Regions from separate parts of the Homo sapiens genome. Here region 2 is linked to region 1. Evidence: fine-mapped expression QTL. A gene starts in region 1. The other region holds a variant in brackets. All regions are shown on one strand. Distances are between the middles of the regions. Region 1 holds the start of AGO4 (argonaute RISC component 4). Region 2 overlaps AGO3 (argonaute RISC catalytic component 3).

What was found.
Region 2: its variant is fine-mapped to the expression of AGO4 in whole blood (TOPMed, PIP 0.95).

Annotation. Positions count from the first base shown.
Region 1 is chr1:35,805,102-35,810,479 of GRCh38, reverse strand. It overlaps AGO4 (argonaute RISC component 4), which reads right to left and starts at 2,464. Exons shown (of 18, transcript NM_017629.4): 1 at 2,045-2,464. The coding sequence starts at 2,063. It overlaps CLSPN-DT (CLSPN divergent transcript), which reads right to left. Exons shown (of 3, transcript NR_199050.1): 3 at 3,540-3,735. RefSeq lists enhancers at 1,412-1,691, 2,791-3,290 and silencers at 1,842-2,091, 2,372-2,581.
Region 2 is chr1:35,934,095-35,939,472 of GRCh38, reverse strand. The region is part of intron 1 of AGO3 (argonaute RISC catalytic component 3); the gene reads right to left. Among named protein-coding and RNA genes, the nearest start is that of AGO3, 5.7 kb to the right of the region's middle. The variant G/A (reference allele first, on the strand shown) is at 2,185.

The DNA of each region.
Region 1 (5,378 bases):
CAGAAACTGAACTAGGTTGCAGGGAGGCGGTGGGCAGGGAGGGATAGAACAAGACTAGAAGGCTTCAGGGACTGTTCAAGTGAGGAGGGCACAAAGCACTAGATCCAGGTGTGCTCTGCCAAAGAAGCAGGGATGATTCTCTAGGTTCTAAAACAGCCTGGATGAATCATCCCACAAGACGATCAACTCCCTTTGCTCTGATTCTATGCTTAGCAGGCAGCTACTTATTAGTTGGGTTTCCAAGGTACTGCAACACCAAAAAAGGAGTTTGCTAGAGAGCAGACAGGAAAATATTCCACTCAACAGAAAAGATCCATGTGACATTTTGGCTTATTCATTAGTGTCTTATAAATGTGGTTAGTGAGAATTAATTTTCCACAATCTGAACAATCCTGAGTGAACCACTAAGTCCTCAAACCTGCAAAAGCTAAAATCAAAACAAAAAAAAAAAAGAGTCCCTGGGCAGTGCCTAATATCACCAGGTTGATCCTTTCCATGAAATTCAGTTTATGCCCACAGTTACACAATTTCTTTCGATATCAGATCATAAATGCAACAGTTGTTTCAATTATGAATTACTAGGGGGAGGGAAGAAACATCTGTTGAGCATCTATAGGCACTAGTCTCTACAATAAGACTTATCATATACTCTCATTTCATTCTCTCAACAATCTTACAGAACATACTTATTATTACCCTCAATTTATAGACGAGAAAATGAAAGTTCAAAGGAATTGAGTAATTTTCCCAGGGTCATACAACTATTACATTACTAGATTGAATCTGTTACATTCCTAAAGACCTGAGCATGTCTTTAGCCAGGGGACATATCTGAAGTTAACCTGGCATAATACACTGAAGTTTATCAAACAATATTAATGCGGCAAGCCAATTTATTTTTAAAAGGCATATGAAATTTGATTATGAGGGCCTTTAAACAATACTTTAAGAAGCAAATTAGGGTGGGGCTTAATCACTCAGCTATGCAAACAAGTGCTAAGTAAACAAACGTGCCAAGTTTCCAAACTCAAATGGCAACTCGAATTTTCTACGCACTAAAAAGATGAAACACTCTACGACTAAGTTCATTATGTAGGTAAAGTTTGAATATTAAAGTGAATTCCACCACAGCCCCTAAACACTGAGCTACTTAGCCAAGGCATTAGAAACCTGTTGGGCTTTGAGGTGGAAGCACCAGGCCCCAATACTCAGGACACTTGTTACAGCCTGGAATGGTTCTTCTGGTTTGGATAGAGAGAAATAACCAGAGGCCATCCATATCCACAACAAATTAGTTTCCAAAGCACTTTCTCCTTCATTTGATCCTCACAACCACTCATAACCCAATTAGAAGAGAACTCAGGGCATTGAAGCCTGTGGTGGAGCAGACTGACTGGCAACTCCTGTGTCACTCAAAGGCTGGCTCAGACCACTCTGAGACTAACACACAGACTGAGTGACAGAGGCACAGGACCATGTTCTTTGGGACATCAGGGCCTTTCAGAAAGGGTGGGCATTTTGTCCCTTGACCTTCAGAGATCATGAGAGGTGTTTGGATGAAGTTCTTCTTCCTCATCTGAAGGCTCTGGACCATCTGCCAGTGCAAAGAAAAATAGGGGCGCGGCCCCAAACCAGGACTACCGGCTGGTAGTAGGCAGCGGGGCCCTTTTCCCGGTCTGGGCCAGGCCTCCGCGCGCACTGGGTAGCGGATCGCCCCCTTCTGAGGCCCAAACTACCCTCGTCGCGACCCCGGGCACATATCGTCTCCCCGAGGTGGGGCCAAGAGTGGCCTCCGCCCGGCAGCGCCGGTCACCTTCCCGAACCTCCCCCCTGGACCTCGGGATCCACCCAACGGCCGGCTGGGGCGCGGTCACCGCCCCCCAGGCCCGGGTCAGCTCCCTCCGCTTCGTGCTGCGGGGCTCGGGTCCCCTTCCCCGAGGCCTGGCGGCCCGAACCCGGCGAGGCGACGGGGCAGCGAAAGTCCCGGCCGCCCGCCCCGGGTCCCGGGTCCCGGGTCCCGCCCCGACCCGAGCTCGCTCCTCACCGGGTCCCAGCGCCTCCATGGCGGCGGCGGGGGCCGCCTCGCCCCGGTCCCCGGCGCCTCCCGCTCCGGGCCCCGCCGCCGCCGCCGCCGCCGCCGCGTAACGCTTGATCTCCGGAATATTGGCGCTGGGGTGGCGCCGCGGAGACGCGGGCGCTGGGCAGGGGGCGGCGGCGGCGCCCGGCCCGGGGACAGGGACCCGGCTCCGGCTCTTCCGGCCTCAGCGACAACAAAAACAATCCCCGCCGCCGCCGCCGCCGCCGCCGCCAACGGGAGCGGGAGCGGGAGCCAGCGCGCGCGCCCGCCGGGAGGGAAGGGGGCGCGGGGTGCGCGGACCCAGGGTCCCGGCGGGCGGAGGGGGCGTGCGCGGCCCCGGGCGCGGGGTCCACAGAGCCCGGCAGGCGGCGAGGCGGGTCGGGGAACGAGCGCGCGCCCGGAGGGTGCAGAGCCCGGTGGACGTGTCGGGCACGCGCCCGCTGGCCCGCTCTGCCCCGTCCACCCGAGGAGGCCGTCCGGTGGCCAACGGCTCTGGGGGCTACGTGCCATCCCCCCAGGGCGTCCTGCAAAAGATCTGGATTCCAGTTCCGCTGACCCACAGATTCAGTTTTCCACTTCTGTGAGTGGAAAGTGTACTGAGATTCACAGGAGCCACCTCGCCTCCCTCCTCCCTCCTCCCACCCCAGATCGCTTCTGTCATCTCGTCTTTTAGGGTCACCTTAGACGCTAGCAGTCCTCCTTCATCCCTTCATTCAGCACCACACACCCAACTGCGCGTCCCTCTCCGTATAGCCGGAAGGCACCACGGGAATGGACCCTGATGAATGATGCATTCCCTCCCTGGTCCCATGACAAGCGCCTCTGGTCAGCAAATCACCAGTCACTTTAGAAGAGAAAGGTCTTGGCCGGGCGTGGTGGCTCACGCCTGTAATACCAGCACTTTGGGAGGCGGAGGCGGGTGGATCACCTGGGGTCAGGAGTTTGAGACCATCCTGGCCAACATGGCGGAAGCCCATCTCTACTAAAAACACAAAAAATTAGCCGGGCGTGGAGGCAGGCGCCTGTAATCCCAGCTACTTGGGAGGCTGAGGCAGGAGAATCGCTTGAACCCGGGAGGCAGAGGTTTCAGTGAGCCGAAATCGGGCCACTGCACTCCAGCCTGGGCGACAGAGCAAGACTGTCTGAAAAAAAAAAAATAAAAATAAAAGAGAGAGAGAGAGAGAAAGGTCTTGCTTTCTTGGATGCCTTCCCCTTAGCAGACAAAAGCCAAGGGAGCAGCACCACCTCCAAGGCAGCATGGTCAGCCCAGCAGGCACAGCATCTTTAGGGCTTTCAGTAAGGACTTTGAGTGGGAGAACACTGGACAACAGGCCAAGAAGCAGTTTCTAGTCAGCAGAAGGAAGGAGCCCCTTGTCCACCAATTGAAAAGGTACGATGAGTTTGTGTGTGTGTGTTGTATTCCTTTGCTACGGCATAACGTAACAAAGTACCACAGACTGGGTGGCTTAAACAACAGAAATTTATTTTCTCACAATTCTGGAGGCTGGCAGTCAGAGATACGATGTAGGCAGGGTTGGTTCCTTCTGAGGCCTATCTCCTTCACTTGGTAGATAGTGGCCTTCTCCCAGTGACTTCACGTGGTCTTCCCTCTGTGCACGTCTGTGTCCAAATTTCCTCTTCTTATAAGGACAGCAGTCCTATTAGAGTAGGGCTCACTCTAGTGACCTCGTTTTAATTTAATTACCTCTTCAGAGACCCTGTTTCCAATTACAGTCACATCCTGGGGTGCTAGAGTTAGGACTTCAATATACAAATTATTGGGGTGGGGGATAATTTAGGCCCCTAGCATGTGTGGTGGGATATTCATTTGAGCACCTGCCATGTGCTGTCACAGAGCCAGGTAGTTTTTTTATGTAATGATAAAAAATATTAGCATCACATCCTGGCCATGCACTCTGCTATGGGCTTCTCATTGTCACTCAATCTTTACAACCACCAGTAAGGTAGATATTGTTAAGAAAGGTATTTGTACAGATGATGACACCGAAGCTCAGGGAAGTTAAGTAAGTCGGGCTTTGCATTACATGATGCTGAAGTGAAGCATGGGAAAAATTGGAGTTCAAATCTTGCATTTAAGTCCTGGCTAATTCTCTCCCTGATTGGCTATGGAACTAGGACTTTTATTTTTTTATTTTTTATTTTTTGAGACGGAGTCTCGCTCTGTCGCCCAGGCTGGAGTGCAGTGGCGCCATCTCGGCTCACTGCAAGCTCCGCCTCCCGGGTTCACGCCATTCTCCTGCCTCAGCCTCCCAAGTAGCTGGGACTACAGGCGCCCGCTACCACGCCCGGCTAAATTTTTTTTTGTATTTTTAGTAGAGACGGGGTTTCACCGTGTTAGCCAAAATGGTCTCGATCTCCTGACCTTGTGATCCGCCCGCCTCAGCCTCCCAAAGTGCTGGGATTACGAGCTTGAGCCACCGCGCCCGGCCGGAACTGGGACTTTTAATCTAGTGCCTACATTCTTGTCTACTGATACCATACCCTATATTCTTTTATTTTTTTTGACCCGGAGTCTCGCTCTGTCGCCCAGGCTTGGGTGCAGCAGCGCGATCTCGGCTCACTGCAAGCTCCGCCTCCCGGGTTCACATCATTTTCCTGCCTCAGCCTTCCGAGTAGCTGGGACTACAGGTGCCCGCCACCACGCCCGGCTAATTTTTTGTATTTGTAGTAGAGACGGGGTTTCACCATATTAGCCAGGATGGTCTCGATCTCCTGACCTCGTGATCCGCCCGCCTCGGCCTTCCAAACTGCTGGGATTACAGGCGTGAGCCACCATGCCCGGCCACCATACTCTATATTCTTTTCACAGCATCATGCTACCTCTCTGTTAAACCAGATAGTAACTGGAAATAGTAATAGGGGACAGAATGTTCAAAGGGGAGAAAGTATTTACTAAACGATCAGACTGCTGCACAGCTAAGAAAAGAAAAACCAACTAGAGTTGGCCGGGCGCGGTGGCTCACGCCTGTAATCCCAGCACTTTGGGAGGCCGAGGCAGGCGGATCATGAGGTCAGGAGATCGAGACCATCCTGTCTAACACAGTGAAACCCCGTCTCTACTACAAATACAAAAAATTAGCCGGGTGTGGTGGCGGGCGCCTGTAGTCCCAGCTACTCTGGAGACTGAGGCGGGAGAATGGCGTGAACCTGGGAGGCGGAGCTTGCAGTGAGCTGAGATCAGGCCACTGCACTCCAGCCTGGGCGACAGAGCGAGACTCCGTCTCAAAAAAAAAAAGAAAAAAAAAAGAAAAACCAACTAAAGTTCAAGTTTTTCACTTCA
Region 2 (5,378 bases), 130 kb before region 1:
CTATACCGACACATCATTAATAAATTTCAGTTAATTTAAGAGCCAGAATCTGTCTCTAAAACCCATGTTTTTTACACTATATCATACTGTCAATTTTTTTCTCCATGGTCATTACTTTACCTGGTGCTTTTTAAATAATTTGGCACAAAGCAAAATTCTGTTGCATGAATAAGCAATGAACAGAATTCTATAGATACTAATCAAGTTTAGTATCCAGAAAATATTCTGGATATTTTCATAATATCCAGAATATTATGAAATATTTACATTACATAATAATGTAAATTAGCAGATGAAACAATTCTGTCAATACAATGAATTATACTTCCAATGAAGCATATTTTAGTTATTTAACAAATACATACTGCCCACTAGAGTTGGAAATATAACTACACAGAAATACAAAGCACTATCTGGACTTTCTCCCTATATCAAACTTTTCTTTCAGCAGTTATTGTATGTACTGGATAATAACTAACCAAACTAAATTTCAAACATAAAACCATACATTTCCAAAGCATACATGTGTCCATGTTGTTCACTCATCTAGTAATCCAATGTGTACCAGTTGGAAAGTCTAAAGCTAAACAATAGCCTACAGCAAATGTGACTGATGAAAAAAAACAAGCAGTGAATAAATCAAAATCAACTATAACATATACTATAGCCAATTACTAACTTATAGATTTTCACTGGAAACATTTTCTTTAATATTCATGGAATACTGTTTCAATAATTCTACTTCTAACAATTTATCCAAAAGCAAGCACTGGACCAGTATACAAACACATATGTACTAGAATACTTACAAAGTTTTAGTCATAATAACAAAAAACTGGAAAAAATCTAAACCACTATCAATGAGACTGATCAATATACAGATAAAATTAAATGCTATGTACTCAGTATAAATTATTATACTATTATATAGATGTAAGTAATGATATGGGAAAGATACTTACGACACATTACTAAGTGGAAAAAGAAGGTTAGAAACAATTCGTATGATAAATATATGGACAGACGGATGGATGTCTGGGAAGATATACAAGAAAGAGTTAACAATGGTTTCATCTGGAGGATAGGATCATACTTTCATCTTCTATTTGAGACATTCTTATATCGTTTGTTTTTTAAAGTAATAAACATGTAGTTATTATTTTATAATTGGAAAAAGAATGCATTTTTGGGCCGGGCACAGTGGCTCATACCTGTAATCCCAGCACTTCAGTAGGCCAAGAAGGGTGGATCACCTGAGGTCAGGTCTGGTTCAAGACCAGCCTGACTAACATGGTGAAACCCCATCTCCACTAAAAATACAAAAATTAGCTGGACGTGGTGGCGGGCACCTGTAATCCCAGCTACTAGGGAGACTGAGGCAGGATAATTGCTTGAGCCCAGGAGGCGGAGGTTGCAGTGAGCCGAGATCATGCCATTGCACTCCAGCCTGGGCGACAGAGCAAGACTCCGTCTCAAAAAAAAAAAAAAAAAAGAATACATTTTTGTTTTGGAAAAAGAAATATATTGTGTTGATCTCAAAATCTGACTTAATGAAATGTCTCTGATTTTATACATGTTAAGTCTGCAAAGCTACGTAGTAAACAGCATGGAACTTCAGGAACCTCCTACCTGCTAATTCCACTTTTTCATTCAATGAATCTGTCCAAACATACCGCACTTATTATTAGGCTCATTACAATTAAATAATCACTTATAGAACATCCAGCCAGTTGAGGGTTAAGCTTATCAGGTGGCAGTATGGGAAACAATTTATTTCTTTTTTTGAGCAGAATCTCGCACTGTGGTCCAGGCTGGAGGGCAGTGGCACGATCTTGGCTCACTGCAACCTCCGCCTCCCAGGTTCAAGCAATTCTCTTGTCTCAGCTTCCCAAGTGGCTGAATTACAGGTGTACGCCACCATGCCCAGCTAATTTTTGTATTTTTAATAGAGATGGGGTTTCACCATGTTGGTTAGGCTGGTCTTGAACTCCTAACCTCATGATCTGCCTGCTTCAGCCTCCTAAAGTGCTGGGATTACAGGTGGGAGCCACCACATCCGGCTGGGAAACAATTTTTTTTTTTTTTTGAGTTGCCCAGGCTGGAGTGCAATGCCGTGACCTCAACTCACTGCAATGTCCACCTCCCATGTTCAAAGGATTCTCCTGCCTCAGCCTCCCGAGTAGC[G/A]GGTATTACAGGCACCCGCCACTATGCCCGGCTAATTTTTTGTATTTTTAGTAGAGACGAGGTTTCACCATTTTGGTCAGGCTAGTCTCGAACTCCTGACCTCAGCTGATCCACCTGCCTCGGCCTCCCAAAGCACTGAGATTACAGGAGTGAGAAACAATTTTTAAAAGGCATTTCCTCCCTTGAAAATAAAAGGGGACATTTCCCTTGTTATTAGTAAGAGCCCATTTTGCAATCTATTCTTTCATCATTTTTAAAGTTCACAGAAATACTATGTCTCTCTCATATTGTTAGAAGATTCAGAAATCAGTTAAAATACCAAGTATTAGTAATGACTCAAAAGTAGTATTATGTAAGCTTACAATTGAGAACACATTCTTGTAAAATTTCTTCTACAAATGAAAAACCTAAAAATATGGGTGGGCATGGTGGCTCACTCCTGCAATCCCAGCATTTTGGGAGGCTGAGGCAGGAGGATCATTTGAGCCTAGGAATTCAAGACCAGCCTGTGCAACATAGTAAGATCCCGTCTCTACAAAAAATATTTTTTTAATCTAAAAATGTCTCACATCAATAGACTGTAGATACCACGTTCTGATTTCCCAAGAACTTGACAATTTGGAAATGATGTATAAAATAACTGGCTGATGTAAAACAAGGAATTCTAGGGCAGGTGCAGTGGCTCATGCCTGTAATCCCAGCACTCTGGGAGGCCGAGGTGAGTGGACTACCTGAGGTCAGGAGTTCAAGACCAGCCTGGCCAACATGGTGAAATCCCATCTCTACTAAAAATACTGAGCCAAGATCACACCATTGCACTCTAGCCTGGGCGACGAGAGCAAAACTCTGTCTCAAACAAACAAACAAACAAAAAACAAGGAATTCTTCATTTCCTTAAACTGACATTTCAGACTAATGCACACTTTTTTTTATTATAACCAAACCACAAAATGCCCACATTTTAATGTATAAGAGAAAGCATCAGTTGTGTGACAAGGTTTTGCTGAATCTCAATAGTTGGTTTTTTTTTTTTAAGCAGTGGCTAGCCAAAGAAAGTCATTAATATTAACACAGATAATGGCAGAAAACCACAGAAACTCCAAATACAGAAAGGCTGTTCATGTATCCTAACAGCATAACCATTATGGCTGAAAAACCACACAATATTCTTTCTCACATCTGTTTTGTTAATGAGCCAAGAATGAGGGTCTATTCAGTATCCAAGACAACTGAATTAGAAGGTAGGAATGTCTGGTAAATGCTGTTCATCTCAACAGTCTGAGACTAAACAGGTCTGGAAAGGATACTGATCTTAAATAAATTATCTTTTTAGTTTTACCTTCCTGAAAACAGAATTATCACTTTGGTCTTTTTTCCCCTACCCATTAGCAACAACAAAAACTTATAAATTACTTTTTAAGATTCTAGTTTTAAGTACTATAAGATAATATGTTTTGTTAGATTAATAATATTTTAATTCACCTTTCAGGTAGATCCTCAAGTATTTTAAGAATATAGAAACCGATGTGAAACTAGATGGCTATATTATAAAGCAAAATGGTATTCAACTAGAATCCATCAGCTTAGACAATTTGGCAAGAAATCTACTCTGAGCCAGGGTTTTTCCATATACAACAGAGAATTCTTCCAGGAAATGTCCCCTTTACAGGGCCCCAGGCCTCTTTGCATACTGTCAGGCCAGGCAGTAACTAAAAAACGCAATGTTCCCATTGGAAGATATAAACTAATACAAATTAATTCTAAATTACCAACTTATTACATACAATTCTCCAAAAAAGCAAAATGAAGTAGCATGTAGATATCTTTTCATTCATTCTAATGGCTTTCCTAAATAACTTAATTCCTTAAGTTTTAAAAAACTAAACAGATTAGTTTAGAATTTGGTTTAAAAATGTAAAGAACGGTTATATGAGGCTGATAGAATCATGGGTAATTTTGTAAATGTCTTCATGTTAACTGAATTATATTTGAAGGTTATCTATATGTCTTTTCCCTTAAGTCTTTTTTTAGAAGGAAAAATTTATTTTATGTCTCAATTTTTGTTTTCCCTCGGAGTCCCTTCATTGAAAGAGAAATTCTAAACCAAATATCAAAACAATCTTGCACATTTTTATAAGTCCCACTGCCAGTCAAGTGCAATAAATATATTTTTTTTAAGTCATAATGGTCACTCCAGGGCAGCATAAGCCAAAATTTAAGTGACAACCCAGTAGAAAAACCTTTATCACTTTCAAAATTCATGCCCACAGACAGAGCAGTAATTTGATTTTTTTTCTTCAAGGCAAAGAACTACAAGTGAGAAAATTTATATAACGACAAAAACATTTCTCAAAGTTATTAAAGAAGATTGTTTTCTGGGAGGCCGAGGCAGGCAGATCACCTGAGGTCAGGAGTTCAAGACCAGCCTGGCCAACATGGTGAAACCCCGTCTCTACTAAAAATACAAAAAATTAGCCAGGCATGGTGGTGCGCGCCTGTAATCCCATCTACTCGGGAGGCTGAGACAAGAGAATCACTTGAACCCAGGAGGCAGAGGCTGCAGTGAGCCAATATCATGCCACTGCACTCCAGCCTAGGCGACAGAGCAAGCAAGACTCCATCTCAAAAAAAATAAATAAATAAAAAGAAGATTGTTTTAAATACTAAATTGGGACCCTGATGGCATTACATATTTTAGTAGGTATTTTTGACCCATAATTTTTATCTACATCATTCAAATCCCAATCTTGATTTAGTTCTAGCTTCCCATATATGCAACTTTTATTCCTTTGGAACTTGGTTCCAAATAACTTTTCTAAAACTTTTATTATTAAATAAACACAGAACTCTAAAACAACTATTTTCAGACATGAATTTAAAAGTGTAAATAAGAAAGAAACAGTCTATTCACTTTTGCAAGACTGTATAAAACTTCCACCAAACATCAAACAATTTGCATGTCATTAATTTAAGGTAAAAGTAAATGTTTTTCTTCCATTATAAAGTGTAGTTCCTCTGTCCTAAACGGTAGTCTAACATTACCTGAAAACATAGACTAGAATAGTATGGACCTAAAAAATGAGTACTCAGGAGAAGTAACATCATCAAGCATTTCTGCAGCTCCCTATTCCCACTTTATTTAGAACTGAAACATAACCTATACTCTTAGTTCAGCAGTAATTAGACCATAAAAA